Linked DNA regions of Homo sapiens: all the other regions are linked to region 1. Evidence: fine-mapped expression QTL. A gene starts in region 1. Each other region holds a variant in brackets. All regions are shown on one strand. Distances are from middle to middle.

What was found. PIP is the estimated chance that this variant, and not a neighbour inherited with it, causes the effect.
Region 2: its variant is the best candidate, but not a certain one, in a credible set for the expression of PPARGC1A in monocytes (TOPMed, PIP 0.72).
Region 3: its variant is the best candidate, but not a certain one, in a credible set for the expression of PPARGC1A in blood mononuclear cells (TOPMed, PIP 0.68).

What each region holds. Positions count from the first base shown.
Region 1 is chr4:23,885,738-23,893,737 of GRCh38, forward strand. PPARGC1A (PPARG coactivator 1 alpha) reads right to left here and starts at 4,310. Exons shown (of 13, transcript NM_013261.5): 1 at 4,167-4,310. The coding sequence starts at 4,220. RefSeq lists an enhancer at 409-985.
Region 2 is chr4:23,852,124-23,860,123 of GRCh38, forward strand. The region is part of intron 2 of PPARGC1A (PPARG coactivator 1 alpha); the gene reads right to left. Among named protein-coding and RNA genes, the nearest start is that of PPARGC1A, 34 kb to the right of the region's middle. RefSeq lists an enhancer at 344-513. The variant C/T (reference allele first, on the strand shown) is at 3,341.
Region 3 is chr4:23,862,662-23,870,661 of GRCh38, forward strand. All of the region lies in intron 2 of PPARGC1A (PPARG coactivator 1 alpha), which reads right to left. Among named protein-coding and RNA genes, the nearest start is that of PPARGC1A, 23 kb to the right of the region's middle. The variant A/G (reference allele first, on the strand shown) is at 4,695.

The sequences.
Region 1 (8,000 bases):
CCATCACTATATTTTGTTCATTATTTATGTATATCTAAACTGTGCTCTACGTGAATTCAAAATAACTATTTTTGTTTAGAGTTTTAAAATAATTTCTACATATTGAGAGGTTTAAAATATCTCTACCATGGCTGGGCTGCTTATCACCAAGATTATTTTAGATTGTCAAAGCATTTCATCCCCTTACATGAAATAGACAGTCTTTTTAACTGTTTTACCATGCGGCTTTTGGAGGCAAGTGGACTCCCCTTACCAATGAGGTGGTCTCCTAAACTTGAATTGGCTACCTAACCGCTAATGTCAGTCCGCAGACAGTAAAGAACACTGCAGGAACTCCTATTGCAGGGGTCTGGCATTGCCAGAACAGTAAGGACTTCATCCACCTGTAAGTGGGGGTGTCTAAATCAGGAGGCACACACTGACGCAGCACCCTCATGGCCCTGCCTTCCAAGGTCAGGAGAGATGCTGTGGAATTGTTCACATCCAGGCTGCAGTTAGGCATAAAATGAAAGATGCTCCTTGACATTTACATTTTGAATGAAATAAGTTTTATGCAGATTTTCTTTCTCAAGCACCCCTGTTATCCCTGGCAGGGATTCCTAGCAGGCCACATTACACAGGTCATATGCAGCAGCGTGATCAAAAGCAACACGCTGAGAAGTAAGTACTGGGTAATGGAGTCAGCAGTTGGTAAGGGGAGGATGGGGGGAGACTGAAAATCATTGCCATCCTTCTCTAAGACCATTGGACCCCAGTGAGATCCCTGGCAGCAGGGACAAGGGAATGCAAAGAAAGGGCCCTCCTCACCATCAAAACTCTTTCCTTATCATTTTATTGGTCTTTCCTTTTATTATCTGAGTTAGCCCAAAATTACAGATCAGTATACTTGACAAGGCATATAAGTAACTGGAGGCTGGGCTGAAGAGATCTCGTTCTGGTACAATGCTCATATTTGGTTGTGGATGTAACACTGCCCAGACTCCATTCTTGCCCACACAGCTGATCCTCCAAGCCCAAACACACTATCTTAACTTTTCCTCAATGTCACCAATTCAGAGATGGGGGAGAACTTTTTCAACGGTGCAAGATACACTAGGATTTTATAGGGGCATAGTCTTTAAAAAAAAAAAAAAAAAACATGAACAACAAAAATAGCAACACAAAAGTAAAAATAATCAAGAAAATGTAGGCTGTCTACATATGGCTTAAGTTCCTGTTGTGAAACTTAGGAACCAACCATGTTTTGGAATGCTAAAGTAGCATACTGATTTGTGGACAACTTCTTCCTGTCCCTCTCTTTAACTGCCCTCTTTGGCATGACTTGCTCATAACCCTTTAACCTTCCATAAATATGTATTTTTAAATAACTTTTGAAAACCATTGAAAAGACCAGGTCAATTTGTTGTATTGGTGCTATCTTGTCATTTACATATTCCTTTCCTTCCTCTCACTTGTTCGCTCGTGCGCTCTCTCTCTCTCTCTCATTTTGCTTTTATGTTATGGTTGAGAAAAGTGCATGTGTTCTTGCCAATGTTGACATGCTAATAAAATCTGTGCTTCTGAATGTGGCATTATCCTGCTAATCTAAAACACATTAGTGGTAGCAAGTGTTCCTGTTATTAATTTATATTTGGCCTTTGGACAATGCCAGACTTAACAGTCCAAGCCCTGTAACTGTCCTCATCTGACATGCTGATATTTACTGTTTCCCTATACCTCTGTAACAGGTGTGCTTTATTGCAATTACACAGACACATTCTACTGCCTCTTTGCAACTATGACAGCTATTTCACAACTGTAGCCTCAATTTTATAATAAGATTTAAGAGGATAAAGCAGTCACTAAACACAAAAGGCTAATTATTGTATGTTATTTCACCCCAACAGACTTTTCTCTTAGTTAAGGAGCAGACAATAAATTAGCTTAACTGCACTGATGATAATGAATCATTATAATTAAGTATAATTCTCCATTAACCTTTTGGAGGTTTTTGTGCCATTGATGGTAAATTTTAAAGAGAGAGAGAGAAGAAGGAGTGGACTTGGCCACATTAATTATATTAATGAAAAAAGAAACTGGGTTCTTAAAAAAATTAGTTAAGACAGGGGAAAGGGGGTGGAGAGAGGGGCAGTAAAGAATGACAGTCTTAGTGGGGTGTATGTCATGTGAATTGTCTCTATCAATCTTAGTAACCTTACTGTATATCACCTTCATTAAACTGTGAAACACGGGGCACTCCAAGTAGCTATAGTGATATAGGCCTATATTAACCAATGTACTACCCTGTCATTATGTGCAAAAGGGCATAATACGTTTTAGGATGACAGCAAACATTAATGATTCAAAAAATGAAAACTGCCAACGCTACCTGCTGCTCGTAATATTTTATACAGGCGGAGGTGATTCCCAGAGCCGCTGCCATGTAGGCAAAGCTTCTAGCAGCTAGCTGCCTATAGTGCAACAGAGAAGTGACTGGCCAATCTCAGCCGACTGGCGACTCTATCCATGGCTGGACAAGTAGCCAAGACCTTTCCTCCTTAAGAAAAAAATTTAAAGGCCACTATTCTAAATGCTTCTGATGTTTATTTGAAAATGACTGCAGGAATTCCAATGATTAAAATAAATCTTCCTTATTTCCATATGATCTAGTTCCTCAATCAACTCCTAACAGCATCAGGAATAATACATGATGGAAAAATGAAACTACAGCAGCTGAGACCCACAGTGCCAGCCAGACAACCACCCACAGGACACTCCGGCTACTCAAAGGCAATTAGGACTTTGAAGCCACTTATAACCCTGACTCATAATGGCTACAGGGCATATGAATTATCCATATCTATTCCGCCTTACCAAGAAATCAGAACAAGATAACAATTACAATCCACAAATACGATCTACCAAGGCAAGGGAGGGCAAATGGAGCCAACATTTGCAAACCCAGCAAAGAGTTAAGAATCCCGGGCATGCCTCGCTAGATAGGAAAAATGCATTCACAGACGGCCTTGGCCAAATTATTTTCACTTTAGATGTGTATCGCTGCACCACATGGACATCTTATTTAATCAAATCACGTGTGGGCTTGATCCTCCCCCTTACCCTACGTGCCCCCAGCTACCCAGAGGAAACACTCGCAGTCTTTTGCCAGATTCATTGTTAGCAGCTGGGATCCTCCATGCAATTCAATTCGAGTCCATCTCACCAGAGTCCACAGAAAGTTTTGCTTGTTTCCCAAGTTGCCCAAACTTTCCTTCCGAGAGCATTCCATTGTGCTGAATGCAAACACGCCGAGGTCCTCCGTCCCCCCACTAGACTCCAGAGATTACGAGGAAACTGCTTGCGTTATTTTCCCCCCTGTATGAATTGTAGCCAGCAGAGACTGTGGAATTGATGTATTGCTGTCTATTTTTACACTAGCAGCGAGCAGCTCCACACACAGTCCTGCATAAACTCTATTCTCTCTCAGCTTCAGGCAGCTCTCCGTGGTACAGGAAGATTTAACCATTGGCTTCCCTGCCACCGACGCGAACGGAAAACCTTGCACTGCCAGGCGTTTCTTTTTATTCGCTGGCCAAATCTTTCAACCACGTATAGGAGTTTTAAAGGAAGCAGCATCGTTGTTTTGTGTTCTGTGGGAAAAGCAATCTAAAATAGCCCAGCAGGATTATTTAGGATTTTGTAAGTTCTCTGTCTGATGAACAGAGAGAGAGGGGGGAAAAATCCGGACTAGAGTCAAAACGGACTATATTTGAACACATCCATTTTAATATTTTTATCTTCGTCTTATTATAAATAGAAATGGCATTTTTCCAACCAGGCCACTAAACACCACTGGAAAGACTTCAGCTTCTGATTCATATCAATATCTTAGAGCATAAATATTGCATATGAGTAGAAACAGTGCCAAAGTCACATGGAAAGAGTTTCTAACTGCAACAGATACTGATGACAGCAGCTAAGCTTTGATTTGCTCAAGCCATCTCAGAGCCACCTTAAAATAGCAAACTTATTGGAGTTAAGATAAGATTGAGATTCTTCTAAAAGCTCCTGCCTGGACTACTTTCCTGGCTCCTCTCTTTGCCCAAGCCCATCCCCCCTTACAGGAATAATAGCATCTGAGGGAAGCGTCAGTTGTGGCTGCAGCGCCGAGCCCTGCCCCAGCTCACCTCGATGTCACTCCATACAGACTCAGAGTCCTGGTTGCACATGTCCCACGCCATCCAGCTCCTGAATGACGCCAGTCAAGCTTTTTCAACTCCAATCCACAGTGACACAGAGCACACACTCATGCAGGCAACCAGCCCCTTACTGAGAGTGAACTGAAGGCACCTGTCTTACTACAGTCCCCAGTCACATGACAAAGCTATTAAAAAGTAGGCTGGGCTGTCACTCACCCAGCCTCCCTTCCCCTGTGCAGCTTGCTGCTCTAACTCGTGACGTCACTCAAAGGCAGCCCTCTGCTTCAGTGAAGTAACGCTTTAAAAAAAAAAAAAAAGAAAGAAAAAGAAAAGAAAGAAAGAAAGGAAACACTTAGACTTTTGGAGGCTTCAAGCATCATGCTGTGATTAAAGCCAGCTTTGAATGCCACAGACTCTAAACGGAGCCCTGGCCATATAATAACCAAAATCCCCTGCAATCTTTTTTTAATTTATTTTCCTTCCAAAACAAGCAAGTGGCAAAGCTCCCTGTTTCATGACAGAGTAACTATATTCTTAGCTAAAACGTGTATTCCCTAAGAACTCTTTAATTCTAAGATCTCCAAGTGGACTCAAGCTCAGTTTGGGACTAAAGCAAGAGCTTATCACATGATGCATTTTTATGAGACATTTTCTCATTGAGGGAGTGTTTGAAAGCGCAAACGGGGCTTTTTTTTTTTTTTTTTTTTTTTTTGCTTGTTTAATCAACAAAATAGCCTGTATGTGTTAAGGTATAAACAAACTCCTCCACCCAGAATTCGGCTGCCCCCATGGCAGTAGGGAATACCAGCTCCCGAAGAGTTGCTGCAGTTTTCTTTGCTCCATATAAGGAGAACAAGCCACAAAACCCCATCCTTTCAGCTTCCTTCTAATTATTTCCATTTCTCTCATAGGCTCCCAGAAAACAAGTGTTAGTAAATACAGTCGCTGCTGCTCTGCTCAGATCAGCTTTGATTCCCGGCTCCTATTTTTCATACATGTAGCGTTTCCTCCCTAACTGCCTTAGGGTGCCTTTTTGAATAAACATTGAATTCCAACCCTAGTGCCCTGGGTTGTGTAGTTTGCGTTTTGAAATCAAGAATGTCTGTGAACTGAGGGAAAAATACCAACACACTATTAGCAGAAATATTCAATTCCTGAGCTTTACTTTCTATTATTTTTCAGCTTGTACCTTGAGACAATGAGGGCTAATGCAGGTAGGTGCAACTGTTTTATGATGACACTACATATTGAATACATAACAAACTCAAGGTACTGGACACAGTGGAAAAACACTTCCTGTAACATGACAGTGGTCTGACTTAACCCTTCCAAGTTCCCAGGAGATGTACACGTGTATGTATCTGTGTGAATAAACATGTTTTCATAAAATGTTAAACCCAATATACTTTTAGAATCAGCTCAATTCTTTTACTTGATAATAATTTACCTGAAAACAATCCCCCAGTTACCTAAATATAATTTGTAAAGCATTATTCTACTGAGGTTAATTTACACTGTTCTTCATTGTCCATCTCCTTAAACAGAAAAACATGGTTATTTGCCCTAACACATATTTTAAATATTAAATTGCTCAAATATTAAAGTGAAAGAAAGAACAAAAGAAACAAAATACCAGCAGACTGCTGCTTCTTTCAGACCATACATATTATAAGAGATTTGTGTGCTGTGAGAGCTGCAACAAGTTGCTAGTAAATTCCCAAATAATGTAAGGAAGTTGACAGTTTATCATTACTGGGCATAAAAAGGTGGCCAAGAGCTTTGACATTTTAAGTTTGCTGAATACAGTTCACCAGCACATTTTCCCTTTTATAAACAGCAGAAAATTACTGTAGTTTTAATTTTCTAATGAAAGAACAGGAAAATACAACCTCGGGAATGCTTTTATACAAGCAATTAGTGGCATTACTCTGCACTCCCCACAAAGAAACACTAATTTTCTTCCCAATTATATTCTGATTTAATGTAAAACTTCAGTAAATTATTAAAATTCAGGACAAAGGTCATTGGCTCTGCCCTCAAGGATCAACTGTGAAATAATATTGGTCACCTGGCCAAGAAGAGTCAATGTTTATTAATTATTATCATGTGATTCTTCCATTGTGATATTCACTGATACCTTTATTTGTGTTTATCCAATGCTAGATATTCATCATATTTTTAAAACCTATTCACATCTTTTAGAGATGTTCTTTACATTAGAACAGGCTCGTTATAATTTTTGATATTCTAACCTGCCCAGATTGTATTGTTAGGGTTTTCTTATTTTTTGCCATCTAATTCTACTTCTAAAAAATCAAATCAGCACATGCACTGAAACCAGAAGTGATTTCAAATACACTTGTGTTTTCTTCACTCTCACTATCACAAAGAGGATGGAATTCAGAAGTAACAACATTTAAAAGACTCATAAACTACAGTATATTGCATTTCCCCCTCAAATTTCTATTACTGGACAAATCAAAATTAAATAGATTCCTAGGACAAATTAGAGTGCTTTCCACGATATTTTTTTTTTGTCTTAAAACTACAACTGTAATGAGAGGGATGTTTTAGAGGTTTTATAATTTTGTTAATTAACTCTTCAGATTAAATTTTTTCTTCAGTCCAGTTTTTTTTTTTTTCTTTTCTCAGGAGAACTTAAATGGTTCATTGCTCACCAACCTTGGTTTTTTTCTGGTTCCCCGGGCCATTTCTCTATTTAATTCTCTCTCTGCTTTGACTATTTCTCTTACTCTCTACCCACAGCCCTCCTTTCACCCCTTCGTCAACTCTGTCTCCAAAATTCCCAAATATCTGGTTTCAGACAACAAGGATCTATTGAAACCTTACTGTGTGCACAGCCATGTATCACAAGGACTGCCAAGAAAGCATATGACATGGACACAAGAGAGCTTACAATTTTAGGGGGATGACAACCCTTAAAAATGGGGAATAATTTGGTATGAAAAACCAACGTCACTTGGATCAACACCCAGATTCCTCTTCTACTGCTTAAAACACACCCTGGTGAGATACAAGTTCCTTTCATTGACCACTGCAGTTCACACCCAAATCAAACCCATTTTTTCTCAACAATAGAAAGAGGTATTTATTAACATCTGCTGAGTGCCCCCAATGTTGCATATCTACACAAAGCCTACATTCCATCCTGATAATTTCTCCCCTCTGTAGTTCTGTTAACATTTTCCAGGGTTTCAATATTAGTAGAGGCAGGAGAATCTATCTCGAGTTGCTAACAAAGAGAAAAAAAAAAACCTCAAGAGAATAATTCAATTCTCTAACAAATACGTTGACTGAAGTGTATAACATTTGGGTTTCCTTCCTCACTCCTACTCCAAATTAAAGGCTTTTCCCATCCCTCCATATTTCAGACAACTGCCCATTTCTAAAAATTAGAATCAAATTCAAACCCTCAAACTCAAAAACCTCAGAGAATAGCAAAAACAATTGGTTTTGTTGTCTATATTGAATATAGGTGATTTCAGAAGCAAACTCAGAAGAGCTATTAGGATAAATATATTTGTTCATTTGTTTTTATAAGTTTATAAGTTTTTATTTTAATAAAACAAACAAAAAACTACCAGACTGCTGCTTCTTTCAGATCATACATATTATAAGAGATGTGTCTACTGTGATATCTGCAGCAAGTTGCTAGTAAATTCCCAAATAACGTAAGCAAATTGACAGTTTATCATTACTGGGCATAAAAAGGTGACCAAGAGCTTCAACATTTTAAGTTTGCTGAATACAGTTCATAAGCACATTTTCTCTCTTACACACAGCAGAAAATTACTGTAGTTT
Region 2 (8,000 bases), 34 kb before region 1:
GGAGGCAGACCACAACATTTTGAATTAAAATGTAGAATTATTTCATTCTTTCTAGCTCAAGTTTCAAACTAGAGGTCTTCAGGAGGAACCAGTCCAGACATACGTTTCATTTGGTGAGCATGGTTTTGCCTACAAAAGGTTTTTAAACATTATTAGATTACTTAACAACAGTTATTGAACCGCAAATTGTATCTGAAATTTCTGCTTTTAAAAAATAAATCTGAAGATCTAGAGAAGCTGGGATTTGAGGAGGAGCTGATCACTTTACAGAGAGGCTGCTCTCCTCAGATTTCCACTGTCTCCACCCCTACAGCCCTGACATAGAATTTTCATGGCAGTCTTCATTGTACTTGCTCCCCATCAAGGCCACATCACTCATTCTCTTTCCTGCCTACCTCCCATGAGCACTGGAGTCACTCTCCTCTGATTGTCGTTTTAAAAATCCACCCTCCCCCATTTTTCTACCTCCACATTTTGGTATCTTCACTATAAAATAGTTTTCTCCGTTTTTTTTTCTTCATAGAAATCCTAAAGCTTAAGATCCTATTCGAGTTCTCTTCTCCCATGAAATATTGGTTAAGCACACCAACATAACTCTTTTAAAGTATTATACAGCATCATGCCATGTTTTATACTTACCATATAAAGCCTAGTTTTTATCTTTTCGTGAGCACATTTTTATCAGCCTTTAGGGAAATAGATATGTACAAGACACATGACCCAGACAGGCATATGCATGTGTGCGTGTTTGCACATGTATTTGTACACCAATTATTTCAACTTCCAGCTACATCATCACTGCCCTAAAAAAAAACTATAATGCACTTTGTCTTTTGCAGGTTAACAGGATGGTCTGCATGAAATAATTCCAATCAAAATTATTTGTTAATTTGATTCTGGAGCTGAGAGATTTCCTTTCACAGGTTTTCCTTTTTATATAAGAAATTTGTAAAAGAATTTTTTTAATTAAGCATTTAGCATTTAGGATACTGGTTTTCTATATTAGAAGAAGGTTTTCATTATAGAAAGCAAAATACAATCAAAATTTTTAAATACACAAAATTTCATAGTTCGATTAAAGGAAAGTACAGAAAGGGGTTAGTTTTTAGTGGCAGGCACTCCCTAGAACATCTTTTAAAGGGGGAAAAGTGAGAGACATGTAAGATAGAAACATGGTACAGAAAATAAAGCATAAAACAACATTAACTTAGGGTCATTATACTTTATGTGTTCTATTACAATGGTCCAAAGGACTATTACTTGTTAAAGAAATGAAAATAAAGACTTCCTAAGTTACATCTGCTATGTTACCTCAGATCAATGAGACACATTTTGAGGAGGTACTCAAATGTCCTAGATGTGTACAAGAGGAATCTCAAATTTGGAGATGGGACAGGTTTCCATCATATTTGAACCTGATAAGCACTTAGGCACTGTGAATTTTCAGTGGTGATAATGAGGAGGGATTTCTGTAGAAAATTCTTTGCTGTACCTGAAATAAACCCTTATCCTTTATACTCTCACCAAGAATATTAAGACAATAACAACTGCCTTATATCTCCTACCCAGAAGGATAGACAGAAACTTGATAGGATTATGAGACATTTAGAAAACTATCTGATAAAACAACGATTTAATTTCTGGAGTATCTTCCACATGCAAGTCAGCATGTAGTAAAGCACAAGACATCTAGAGAAGACAAACAATAAAGTAAACAAGGGTACAGGTTCTACAGTCAGACTGCCTGGGCATGAATCCTAGCTCTGTCAATTACTAGGATTGGGGACCTAGGGCAAGCTACTGAACTTGTCTGGGACCAGTTCCCCATACACAGGGAAGATAATGATAAAATACCTGCCTCACAGGTTGTTGTAAAAATTAAATGAAACGTATAAAGTGCTTAGAATACTGCCTGGCACATAGAAACCCTCAATAAATATTAGCTATTGTCTGTATTATTTTTATTAGCCTCAAAGAGTTTATAATCTAGTCAAGGGAGTGAGACAGGAGCAGTGAAAATACAACTAATGACACAAGGCCATGTGTACATGACAAGTGTCAGATAAGTCAGTCCGATACTGAGTGTTAGTTCTGAGAAGAGAGAATCATTTTTAGTTTTAAGTAATGTTGCCAGGAATCCAGGCAAGGGATTTCTTATCAGGTCACAGAATTTTTAGCATAGTTATGTTATTTTGGTCATGGAAATCCCTTTGAAAACAATTTCAGAAAAGGCCTCTCCTAACCTTTGGGTGTATTAAGGCATCCAGATTTTCCCTCTGACCTGGGAAATGAAGGCACATCATCAGCACATCCAGACTTCATATAAAATTTGATTATGGTCCTATCCAATTACCGGAAATTCCTACAAGTTTCCGATGGCCTCTCAGCTGTGTCTGGCTTGACTGAGAGGCCATACAGTCCAACAGTTCCACAGACTTGGCCAAGAAACATAATTTGAGAGAAGGAATAAGAACTATATAAATGAAGATGGCCTTGTCCCACAAATATGAGTTTTTATACTGAAAATAAACACTGTACTAAACTGTTTGGTTCAAAGGCAAGATTCACCTTTAAAATTTTTTTTTACTGCTGTGTATTTCCTGAGGTTGGAGTGTGTCATTCATTTTTATATTCCAAGTATCTAATACGATGCTTGGAATATGGTAGACACCGGGTAAATCCCAGATGGATGAATGAGAAGCTATAAAGAAAAAAAGGGGAAGGAAGGGAAAGAAAGGCCTGTTTCCAATATAAACTAGGTTGAAATACTTTACCAGCCTAAGTGATATCCTCACCCACTGATATGATTTGGCTGTGTCTCCATCCAAATCTCATCTTGAATTGTAGCTCCTATAATTCCCACGTGTGTAGGAGGAACCCAGTGGGACATAACTGAATCGTGGGGGCGCACTCCCCGATACTGTTCTCATGGTAGTGAGTAAGTCTCATGAGATCGATGGTTTTATAAGGGGAAACCCCTTTCACTTGGCTCTCATTTTCTATCTTGTCTGCTGCCATGTAGGATGTGCCTTTCACCTCCTGCCACAATTGTGAGGCCTCCCCAGCCATATGGAGCTGTGAGTCCATTAAACCTCTTTTTCTTTGTAAATCACCCAGTCTCAGGTATGTCTTTAGCAGCAGAGTGAGACTGGACTAATATACCCATGCAACCCCTGACCCTTCACTGTCTTATTTGAATCTGGCTTTTACCACTCAAGACTTTTAATGTTAGTTATATTTTAAAATACTTATCTTTACTTCCAAATAGATGGTAAACTGGAACATAATTGGCATTCAGAAAGCATTTGTCAAATATATGAGGATTACTTAGCTAACTGAA[C/T]GCTCTCTTGGGACAAGCAAGGACCTACTATGCTCGATGCTTCTAAAAATGCCTACTCTTGTGCATTGTATAATGTACTCCAAAAAATAATTTCAGGTTTATTTAATTCCATATTCTGCATGCATTTAATATATGCTTAATAAGCACCGACTATATTTCAGACACTGAGTTAAGTAATGATACTGGGTTAGTGACAACCACAGCCCAGACCCTTAAATAGCTTCTCATCCCATGGGAGAGACAGGACAAATAAGAAACAGGCAGATTGAGAAATCCTGGGAGAATGTAAAGCTTCTACAGGGCCCACATCAGAGGCACCTAAGCTGTGGTAGGGTGCCAGGTGTTGGTGGTTTGGGAGAAGTGATGTAGGAGGGGAAGTCTGGATTGTTATAAGGAATTAGGCTGGCAAAGAGATGCAGGAAGGGATGTGCTACATCAGAATGAAACAATAAAATTTAAACACAGAAAAACCAAAGTGTCACCAGACTCAACATATAGTAGACACTTAATAAACAATAATTGAATAAATAAATTACTGCACTAGTGTTATGTCACTTGAAACCATCTGACATTGAACTATCCCCAGGTTCTCCCACCATGGACAAAAAGTGACATTTGGAAATGTGTTGCAATAGTTATAATACAAAACAAAGCTTGTATATCTCCTATTCCCACCCCATAGAGCTCCCACAGTATATACTTGAGCTTCCTGACTTTCCAGAATGTGCCAACACAACCATAAAGAAAATCAAACAGCAATCATTGCAAATGCCAAACGCTGAACTTTTGCAGCCAGTATTCCAAGAAAGAATTCTCTGTGCTTATATTTTTTGAGGTGTAGGCCACTTCTTGGTGTTTTCTTACCAGGGATTAGTCATTGCAAACACTGTTGACTAAATGTGGTTTGTTTTAACATACAAAATGCCTTTGTTCGTTGGCTTTCATCAGCCCCATCAGAGAGAGGCCCGGGCCATGCTCAAAGCTGCAGGACACTCGGAGAAGTCACATTGTGATTGCTTGTCTTCCCTCTAAAGGTTACATTTCATGACAGAGATTAAACGTCTTGCCCATTCTATGATTGCTTTTGAAAATTATGCACTAATGATAGCCACTCAGCAAGTAGCTTAGTCATTTCCCTTTAGCCTCTGTAGAGAGAATCCCAATTTGGTCATTTCTCCAACAAATGTTTCTTGGGTGCATATCATGTGCTAGAAACTGCTACATGCAAGATACAGTGGCCTATAAAACAGGCATGGCCCCTCCCTCATGGAATTTACCTTTGATTAAAGGTACACATTGAATACATACTGGGGAGCCAATAACAGAAGCCGGACTCTCCCTTCATCACCGAGAGGCTGGCACAGAGCCCAGGGGCAGGCTGTTGAACACCTTCTCCCTGGAATTTGAATCTTGACCAGCATGCTTGTGCAGTTTTGTTCCCAAGGACACTTTCCGTTTTACAGAGCTATCCAGGAAGTTCAAGGTATTGGAATGTCAACAAATTGCCATTTATTGACTATCAATTAAGTGCAAGCATTGAACTATGTACTTTCCTTATATTATTTCTACATATATTATTTGAAAACTTAAAAAATGGAAAGGCTAATGTTTCCTGGCAGAGACACACAAATGATTTCTCAGGAATAGCAAATACATGTAATTATAGAAGGTAATGTAACAGGTCTCTCCATATTCCCAGAGCCAGTGCACCACTGGACTCACAGAAGATGCTCATCACTGATGTTCTATAGGTGTTTCTGGGATTCCTGTGACAATATAAAAGGCAACAAGTGCATAGTGACAAATGCCAAAGAGATGCAGAAACCACAAGATGGAGGACTCGCCTTTGGCAAATAAAGCCAGGGATGAAGTTTCATAAAATCTATTTAGTATGTGCGTGTGTGTGTGTGACACACACACACACGCACGTACTAAATAGATTTTATGTACTAAATAGATAAATATACATTTATCTGCATATGCATACAGATAAATGTATATTAACTAAATCATAAGCACTAGTTTCAATTCATGGAATTTCAGAGGATAGCCACTGGGTGGTAGAATTCCCACTGTTTAGTTGGGAACAAGAACCCCATTCTTTTACTTAATGTCAAACACTTTGTGCTGACAGTATAACTCATCCAGCTTTAAGACCTCAGAACTGTCACTGGTTGTTTCTTGACTGCCCAGTAGATTTGTAAATGCACCACACTTTCCTTTCACAGAATTATCCCTCCTTGACTGGATACACACCGAGAGCCAGTAAGCAAAAGCCTCACACTATTCTCACCACTCCAGGGCTAGCACAGAATAGGGAAAACCTATTGACATTTGAATCGTGATGAGACTCCTCTTGCAGTTTAGTTCCCAGGCTCCAGGTCTTTTAGGTACTAAGCCTAGTTCAACACCCTCTCATCAATTCCATCAGCCATACATATCCTTCTGCCTTTCTGCTTGAGGAAGCTAGAGTTGATTCTTTGTTTTCTATTCCATTGTTTGCAACCAAAGAACTCTAAATTATAAAAACAACTACTATGGCTAAATTATAAAAACAACTACTATGGCTAAATACTACTATGGCTTTCCGTGGAATGAAATGGTTCTTGGAAAAGTAAAGGACTTATTAATATTACATTTGCTATCTTTATAGATTCAAGGAAAGGCAAAAGCTATTACTTCCAGGAGTTTGTAGACTTTGTCTTAATTCTGTCAAAATGCATACCCCCTCTATTCCAGGCACTATACAGGACATTTTCAATGCATTGTCTCATTTAATTTTAACAACAACCAACTAGAACATAAGCTCCAGGAGGGCAGGATTTTTTTTACTCCCTGGTTCACTACTATATTCCTAGAACATTTTCACACATGATAGGTGATCAGTAAATGTTTGCTGAATGAATAAATAACCCTGAGGCAGGCACTATTTTACAAAAGGAGAAAAAAGATAATCATGGTCCTACTGCAAGTCAGTGGTAGAGCTAAGATTTGAAAGGCAGGCATGTCTGACTACAGGGCCCAGTCTCCTAACCATCTTGCTACCATTGCCTTTAGGTTCTTGGGATACAAAGAGAAGAGAAGGTTGCTGACCTCAGGGAATTTGGGCAAGCCCCTTTAAGTCCTGGTTTCCTCATTGTGAAGTAGAGATATGTCCCTCATTTGGTTTTTGAAGACCTAAGAAAGTCCTGGAAAATGCCACATAGAGATGATATGTGAATATTGGAAGTCTGTCTAATGTTCAGAAAGGTAGAAAATTGACAGTCAAATCTCACCTTTGTCATTGCTAGCAATTACCTGGCAAACCTCTTAACTCGGAGACTCAGTTCCATACTGCAGAACATTTGCCTTTTAGCCTTTTTAGAAAGACAGGAAAAATAACTACAAGTTTTATGGACTGGCTGAGTTGAAATATAAATACAAATTAAGGTATATAAATATATACTTATATAAATATAAATTATATAGATTTAAAGTGTAAATTTATATTTATATTTTGTAGAATAAATTAAATATAAACATAAATTAAAGTATGTAAATATAAATTTATATAATACAAATAAATAAGTTTATAAATATAAATTAAAATAGTATTGTAATAACTTTTAATACTAGCCCATTCCAGTACATGATTCAAATACATTATCAACTCTGTGGGCTTTCCAGGGAATATTCCCAGGGAATGTAGTAAGAGAACACTCAAGCATCATTTCAAAAACTATTCTTTAGGTTGCCTCTGTTAATTAGTGAAGAGTTTTAATGCTTAAAATGTCAGTCCCAAGTTAGGCCAAGACAAGATTCTTAAAGATGATGCCAACCCATTCAGACACAGAGCCACTAGCGAGCCATGTCAGACATGATCTTTGGCTTGTCCAATTATCTCTAGTTGGCCTGAATGCTGAAAGTGTAAGGGGAAGGTACAGGTACATTTAGGGTCTTCCAGCAAAGGAAGGAGAGAAGATGTATTCAAAGAAGAGGGAAGGAAATTGGGAGACTGCAAAGAAGAACATTAACAAAAATTCAAAATATTTAAAATGTAACACCACGGTGGCTCACGCCTGTAATCCCAGTACTTTGGGAGGTCGAGGTGGGTGGATCACAAGGTCAGGAGATCGAGACCATCCTGGCTAACACAGTGAAACCTCGTTTCTAGTAAAAATACAAAAAATTAGCCCAGCGTGGTGGCGGGCGCCTGTAATCCCAGCTACTCGGGAGGCTGAGGCAAGACAATGGCAGGAACCTGGGAGGTGGAGCTTGCAGTGAGCCGAGATGGCACCACTGCACTCCAGCCTGGGAGAGAGTGCAAGACACCGTCTCAAAATAAAATAAAATAAAATAAAATAAAATAAAATAAAATAAAATAAAATAAAATAAAATAAAATAAAATAAAATAACACCAAAAAAGAGAAAGAATTTTCATGTAGCCTGGTCAATAAGGAATATTCAAGTAGCACAGAAAATTCAAGAAGAATGGGGACCTGAAAAAGGGCTTTTGAGTTAGACAATTAAGAAATCTTTGAGTAGAAGGTGGGGCATAGTAGCTCAACCCTACAATCTCAGTGCTTTGGGAACTCTACATGGGAGGATTGATTGAGGCCAGGAGTTCAACAGCAGCCTGGCCAACATAGTAAGACCTTGTCTTTACAAAAAATTTAAAAAT
Region 3 (8,000 bases), 23 kb before region 1:
TTTTAACATTGTCTTAAGATGTTGAGTCCAGTGCTGGGCAAGCCCAAAGCTACTGTAGTATTATTATTATTGGCAAGAAGAAGCCTGGCGAATTATCAAACTCAAAGCAAGAGAAAAATCTTTACTATGTGGGGCAAAAGGGGATCCCTTAAATCTTTCCTCCAGTTTATTTGCCAAATAAACAATGTTCTTGAAGACACCCCTCCTTATCAAGCACTCCATGACTTCTCCAGAGCTCCATCGTCGCATATTGTTCATGGACTTCCTTCCAATAGCAGCCGCCCCACCTGCTTTACAATCTGCGCATCACATTCCTCTCTGCGCCTTCCCTGAAACATGTCCTCTTCTCATTCTCTCATTTTTGTTAACCAAGCCCAAATTCTCCAAATCACCCAAGGTTGAAACCACAGCCATTTTTCCTCCCTTTTTTCACCACAACATCCAACCTATCACTTAATATGACAACAATCTTTATTGATCCTTCCTTCGGGAAGTCTGCCATATGCATTCCTTCCTTTCATTGTCACCATCACCCCCTAATTCAAGCTCTATGACCTCAAGCCTGAAAACCTCAACAGCTTCCTCACCAGGCCCCTGGTTGCAAGCTCTAAGATAACCTTTCTTCGCTGATGCCACCAGATAACTTTTAAGAGTCCCTGGTGTCTAACAAACCCCATATTGTCTTTTTTTCTGCTCCTCCTGACTTAACCTTGATATTCTTTATGCAAGTCACTTCACATGCCTGGGCCTCAGTTTCTCCATTGTGAAATGAGCATGCTAGATGAAATCTCCCCTCATGTTAATTTAGTACAATTCCAAGATCCCATTCACTTGTATCTACTTTCTCTGCTGCTCTATTAGATGAGTCCCCAGTCATCACTTGGTCTTTCCTCACCACTACTGTGTTGCTCATAGCATTGTCTCTATCCTGTTCAGTTTTTTATTCCAACATCTAGCATAAATCCGTGCACATAGTAGGTGATAAATATGTGTTAAAATAATAATGAGATGAAAGCCGACGTCTAAAATGCCCACGTTTCCTCTCCGTCCATGGAAATCTCTCTACACCTTGAAGATCTGTATCTTTTTTGTTGTTGTTTTTTGAGACAGAGTTTAGCTCTGTCACCCAGGCTGGAGTGCAGTGGCGCAATCTCAGCTCACTGCAACCTCTGCCTCCCAGGTTCAAGTGATTCTCCTGCCTCAGCTTTCCCAGTAGCTGGGATTATGGGCGCGTGCCATCACGCCTGGCTAATTTTTGTATTTTTAGTGCAGACAGGGTTTCTCTAGGTTGGCCAGACTGGTCTCGAACTCTTGACCTCAGGTGATCCACCTGCCTCAGCCTCCCAAAGTGCTGGGATTACAGGTGTGAGTCACTGGACCCAGCCTTGAAGATCTATTTCAAAGGCAACCTCCACCACATTAGCTTCCCTCTTCACTCATAGGTTTCACAGATCTCTTCCCACCTCTAAAATTCTTAGAGTAGTTTGTTAATATCAGGCCAATGCTCACATGTTTCCTTAGTTTTTAAGGACACTGAAGGCAGGGGCTAATTCATTGTCTCTTTTATTTATATGGTGCCTAGAACAGGGCTTTGTCCACATTTTACTATCTACATTTTACCCATTGTCTGATTGTGTCACCCGGGTAAGTCTTGCCTCCTTATACAGCTGGGCATCCCCAAAGGAAGGGAATCCCAAGCCCATATACTTGGTCTGTAATTATCATGGTTTCCGGCAAAATTCTAGGTACACAGCAGATGCTGAAAAATAATGTTTGGTTTAACAATCAAGTATGGTATGTGTGGGGTAGTATACCTTCAGGAGTAGCAGCAACCAGCCCTGGCAGGGGAGAGGAAGGCTAAATCACCTAAGTATGAGTTACTGAGGGTTCAAAGGAAATGATGGAGGAAGATGGTGAACATGCACTCAAGAACAAGAGGAAAGTCTTTCGCAGCAGACTGTACATGGAGAACAAAGGACAGATAGAGACAATGACCCCAAGGCTTGTGGTTTTAGGGGGAAACAGCAAACTGGTTTCTGATCCCTGGGAGCACATAAACAAGAAGTTAGGCAACCTGGTGTGTGCTGTATTGCAGAGTCAGCCTTGTGCTAAAGATTAACAGCCCGTCTTAAAGGGGACTAAAGATCAGCAGCAAGCTTGCAAAGCACCAAAGACCTCATTGACAGCAGACGGCAGTTGCAATTGCAACCAGCAGTTCTCTGCAAAAAAGAGGCACCACTGGCCAGGCACGGTTGCTCACGCCTGTAACCCTAGCACTTTGGGAGGCCAAGGTGGGTGAATTGCCTGAGCTCAGGAGTTTGAGACCAGCCTGGGCAACATGGTGAGACCCCATCTCCACTAAAAACACAAAAAATTTGCTGGGCATGGTAGTGCTCGCCTGTAATCCCAGCTACTCGGGAGGCTGAGGCAGGAGAATCACTTGAACCTGGGAGGTGGAGGTTGTAGTGAACCAAGATCATACCACTGCACTCCAGTGTGGGCAACAGAGTGAGACTGCCTCCAAAAGAAAAGAAAGAGTCACAGCTTGATCCTTCAACCATCAATGGACCACCTCAGTCAAGCAAATATATCCTTGAACATGGCAATGTGACTGGCCAGCGTTTCTGAGGATTCCTGATAGAAAATACCCATTTCTTCTCTGACACTGAGGAGAAGCAGTAAGAACCAGGAAATCTGAGTTCTGGTTAAATACTAAGTCCTAAGTTCCTCATCTGTGGGAAGACAGAAATCACACATAACCAAGGGTAGTGATTGACACTTAGCACGGCCCCAATAAAATGTTTATGAGAAGGCTGGTAATTCAGGTAGAATCAGATCTATTAAGAGAGAAGACCCATGCATGGTGTCTGGGACACAGTAGGGACTCTATAAATGTCTTAAAATTTCCTTGGGTGGCATTCTATCAACATGGGTATCTCATTTCTGCAGTTCAGTGACAAGTCTCCTTGAGGACTGAGGCCTTGTGTTAGACACCTTTCCACCTCTTACCGCACCTGGCATAACACCTTGCACATAATAATATGAACTCAAGAAATATCTGGCGATTAATTGCCTCACAGGTAGCATCTGCGGCTGAAATCTATTTCACACTAAATTGGCAAATGCAGGCTTCAGAATGTAGGTAAACTGGTCAACCTGAGAACAGTCTTAAACTTTGATGATCAGCAGCATGGTTTCTGATGAAATGAGTGGAAACTAGTATATTGTTAAGTGTTGTAATCTACACATGCAGTTATATGGCTTAAACTGAGACAGCCCACATTTATTCCTACACACACACACACACACGCACACATGTACATGTGCACTTAGAAGGTGGTGAATAATAGTTGATGAAGTTGTTTGTATACACTATATAGAGACAGACAGACAAGAATTGACAGAGCAATAGGCTCACAAAGAGTTGTGAATATGTAAGAAAGAAAGATACCAGGAATAGCCAGCCTAGTGTTTTAAAACTGCATTTTCTTTGCTTTCTGCTTTTAAATTACACACTGCAAAGTCACTGAGGAGAAAGCTTTAAGAAAACTTTCATTTGCTATGGTACAGCTCGCCTTTCTTTACCTAAAAAAAATAAATAAAGCCCTAGAAACATTTCTTTCTTCTCATAGACATTAATAATGATAGCTTGAACTGTAAAGATTTGGTTTTACTGAAGGTAATGGAGTAATGTTTATTTCCATTAGACTAGGCCTATAAAATCCTCTTTTTATAACCATGAGCCTCCAATTTCAAAACAGCAAAGCTTGACATTTTGGTCTCTGACAGGCAACACTTAATATTGGGATGTTTTAAAAATCTATATGAAAAAAGCTCTTAACACAAGATAGGCCGAACATTTTCCCCGCAAATGGTTTGTTTTAGCTATCTCTCTTCCTCCCTGATGGACCAGGAAAATCAGACAGCTTATTGGCTTAGTTTGTTAGGCCAGGTTAAAGGGATGCAATGCCGAAAGACTCTTACAGGAGCTTACCCTTGAGCTAAAAATAGCAGGCACTAGAGAATTATCTTAAATACGACCAAACTTGTTCGGTACTGTGAATGCAGATAACTGTAATACGTTTCCATTTTGGGTCATTTCAGAGCTTTTTTTTTTAGCTTGGCTTGCTGTAGCTGACTATTTAATTCATTTCTGATTCTATTTGTCACATTTGCTCTCAGAGATACCGCCCGGGGGTGCTTGACTCAAGAATCCTTCTTATTTTGCTGCGCTGCTTTTGTTAAAACCTAATGAGCCATTGAACTGCGGAGTGCAATGTAGACGGGACTTGTTAGAAGGCAAATTTATTTTCAAATGTTATTAAGAACCTACTATGTGTATCCTTTTTCTTGTCTTCCTCCTAAGAGGTGGGAAGTGCAGTTTGCTAAATTTTATAAATAAATAAGAGGGTATTTAACTTCTGACTTATTGAAGACTCACGAGTAAAAAAATCTAGCAACAATTATCAAATTTCCTCTCTTCTCACCCTTTTCACGGACATTTTTACTCCTCTATGTGTGTCTTCATGGTACTTCATTTCTGACTTTAATACAGAATGCATCCCCTTATTTTATAATTAGTTGCCGAAGTCTGTCTTTCTCACTAGCCAACCAACTCCTGAAGGGAAAATTCTGTGTCGTAGGCATTATGTACTTAATACATCTTTGTATTATGCGCACTTAAATTAGTGCCT[A/G]GCATGTAGTTGTTGCTTTTTAAAATAGTTGATAAATGGGTCAGTTTAAGAATGAATGAAATCAGTCTCTGCATTAGAGCATCCTGCATAGGAACATACTGAATTATAACATGACAGTCAGACTAAAATCCTGGACTGGGTAGACTGTCCCGTCTAAAAAAGATAACTCACCAGCTTTTGCTAAAATAGCAGTGATGTCCATATAGTCAATTGTACTACAGATACCAGAAAAGGGCAGGGAATTAAGGTGAAGGAGATCCTCTCTCTGCTATTTTTGCATCCTGGTTCCAATGATCACAGACTATAAATGAAAGTAAGGTCAGAATCATTCACAACTTCTGAAAGATCTGAATGCCTTGAGAAATTACCCATCATTCCCCAGCCCAGGATTTCTTTCTAGCCCCTAAGCTTGATTCTTCCAAAAATAAGGCAACTGCGATACAAGTATGGCACAGTAAACTTGTACAATCATGCACACTTTTCCACAAGAGGTAAACTGTTTTCATTACAATCGTAAACGAGGAAACTACAACAACAACAACGACAAAAACAGTTGCAAAAATTTTAAGTCTGAATCCATTGAGAGGGTCAAAACCAGCCAGGAAATACGGGCACAGTGCTGGGAACAGCGTGTTGGGAAGCTGTGGCCATGCATTTGCATGAGCTTCCTGGGAACAGCGGGTTCCTTGAACAGAGACACACTTACTTTCATGCTCTGGAACCCCGGTAAGGTACCTGTTCCTGAGCTCTTCATTGAGTGGCAGAGCCCTTTCCTCTTCTCGGGGAGAGAAGAGTAAATGCTCTATGTCTTCAGTAGACATATAGCAGCGCCTTTACCCGCCAATGCACATTCGCTTAACACAACCACATGTCTCCCAACTCCATATATCTTCATCTGAACAGCAAGTCTTGTAGCTGAGTTAGGGGGTAAGTTCACAGACACTCTGGCAGACACACAGCATACTGCTGTCACTATTGGCTCTGTTTATAAACCATCTCTTGGAGAACATGTTCTCAGATCTTGGATATGTCTTATTTTTAGCATGATTGGTCTGAATGGCTGGGAAGGTCATGTTATATTCTCTCTCTCTTTCTGAATTTGGTAGAGCCCCTGTAAATCTGTCCATTAACAAAAACTAGAGAGAGTTTTAATGTGCACAGCTTTGTGCTAGGGACTGAGGAGGTGATGAGGTCCCTCTTTCCCTCATGCAGTTTATAATGCACCTTGAGAGATTTAGCCAAAAAGCTATTACTTAGAAAGCTGAACCACAATTCGAAGGCCTTAACGAAAGAAAAAGATGCTCTTTTGCACATGTGACAACAAAAATTCACTTTGTGCCAAAGACGGCCACAAATACTTTCCTAAATTTCGGGACTTAATAGTTTATCCCATGCCTGGTAAAGGCTTAATGTAAACACAGACCAAAACAACCAGTCTTTAAAATAGCATATTGTGACAATACCGTTTATGGAAATGGTGTCTATGGAAAGTTTCCTTTCAGTTCTCATTCCTTAAGACTCATTTCCAATGGCACTCAAAGGAAGACAGATTTAATTTCTGATAACTCCCAACTGCACACCTTATTTTATCCCTGCTTCTGCACTTAATTTGCATGGATACTCTCCTTTCCACTGCTTGGTTTCATGGAGGGTGCAGAGATGGCAGGGCAGCCAGCCTTGCACACAGCCTGGAATCAGCTTGTATGTCACTGGATGAAAGGTCAGGTGAAAAGGCTCACCACTGGCACCATTAATCTAGTCACTCAGGGACCATCCAGTGGTTCAAGAATAGCTTGCAGGTGAGTGATGGACAGGGTCATGGCTGCCTGGCTGTATCAGGGGCTATTACGACAGCCATAAAGAGAAAGGAAAAAATTGAACAAGGGGAAGAATTACTCCTGAAAGAGACATGAGGAAAGACACAGATGTCTTCGTACAAAGGATAAGCATGAGAGAAAGTAGCAGGGGAGCTGGACTGCTCACAGTGGTCGAGGAGGGCAGCATTCTTTGAAACTGCCAAAGTTTGAATATTAATGAAGGGTTGTGGCCCGACCAAGGCTCTGGGTCCGTATAGAGAATCTTGAGCTGTGCATTCTCAGGTGAAAGGTGCCAGAATCAGTCAAGAGAGTTTGGATAGAGAAGATACAGCTACAGCATTCCCTAGGTTTTTAGACAGAAATTAGATTTAGGAAGCCCAGTCCTGTACATTATCTGAAATTCTTTATCCAAAGGCAAGTAGCAGATCTTAATGACTGTTTTGAAAGCTCTAAGGTTGTTCATTTATTTATAAGAGTCTCCAAAGGAAAATGGCACGGCGGGGTGGGCGGGGGGGCAGTTAGTCTCTGTAGTGATATTACGATTTCGTATGCTCCAGATGAATATTTACAAGTGAGTTGTGCATTGCTGGGGTGGTGGCTTATTTGAGGACTGGGTAGGATAAATACGGAAAGCCATGAAGGAGAAAAGTATAGGCGATTTCATTCTAAAGTAATGTGGGAAATTGCTTACTTAACGATAACTCTACTGAGCTATATTTGTCTTGACCAACGTCCCTGTAGCCAAAAAGCTTTACTATTGATAAGGAAAAAGAATCCAGTGGTCTCTTTATTCAAGAAAATTTCAATAGCTGTATTTTTAAGGGAAGATGTAATCTAACAGATTATAAAATGAAGTTCGGTATTTCATGGAGCATTTTCTTCTTTATTATCAAAGTCTACACAGGAAACACTTACAGGATAATATATAAACTCCATTAAAATCTGTTAGATCTAAAACTACGTGTTTGTGTTTGTATATATGCCTCACCTATTTCCTCACATGATCAGGCTTTAATCCACATAGGCACTGGTGCAGATAAATCAAAGAACTTAACTTGCTTAAGCACCAAACTTTTTATTAAAACTTTTTTATGGAAAGATTTCCGAATCACGTATTTACATATTTTCCCCACTTTAAAAATTATGAGGATTGATTTTGGTAGCACTGTCTGGTATTGCAAAATGACTGTATGGACCTATTGAGAAATATAGGATTATTTTCCCTCAAACTAAAAGGCCCCAGACTGTCATATTTTCAGGGTTTGTCAACTTTCTGTAGTTTGTAGTCTTGTCTCTTTTGGTCAGTTGTCACTGCTCACCATTATCTTTTTACTGTCACCATTTCATGAATTTTCTAAACCATTTCTTCAAATGTCATATGTGCTCATAGAACATCACATATTGAATAGAACATTAGACAACCGGATTCATTTAAATCATAAGTAAAGCAAAAGGAAGCAAGCGTTAAGTGAGGGGTGAAGAAGTGTAT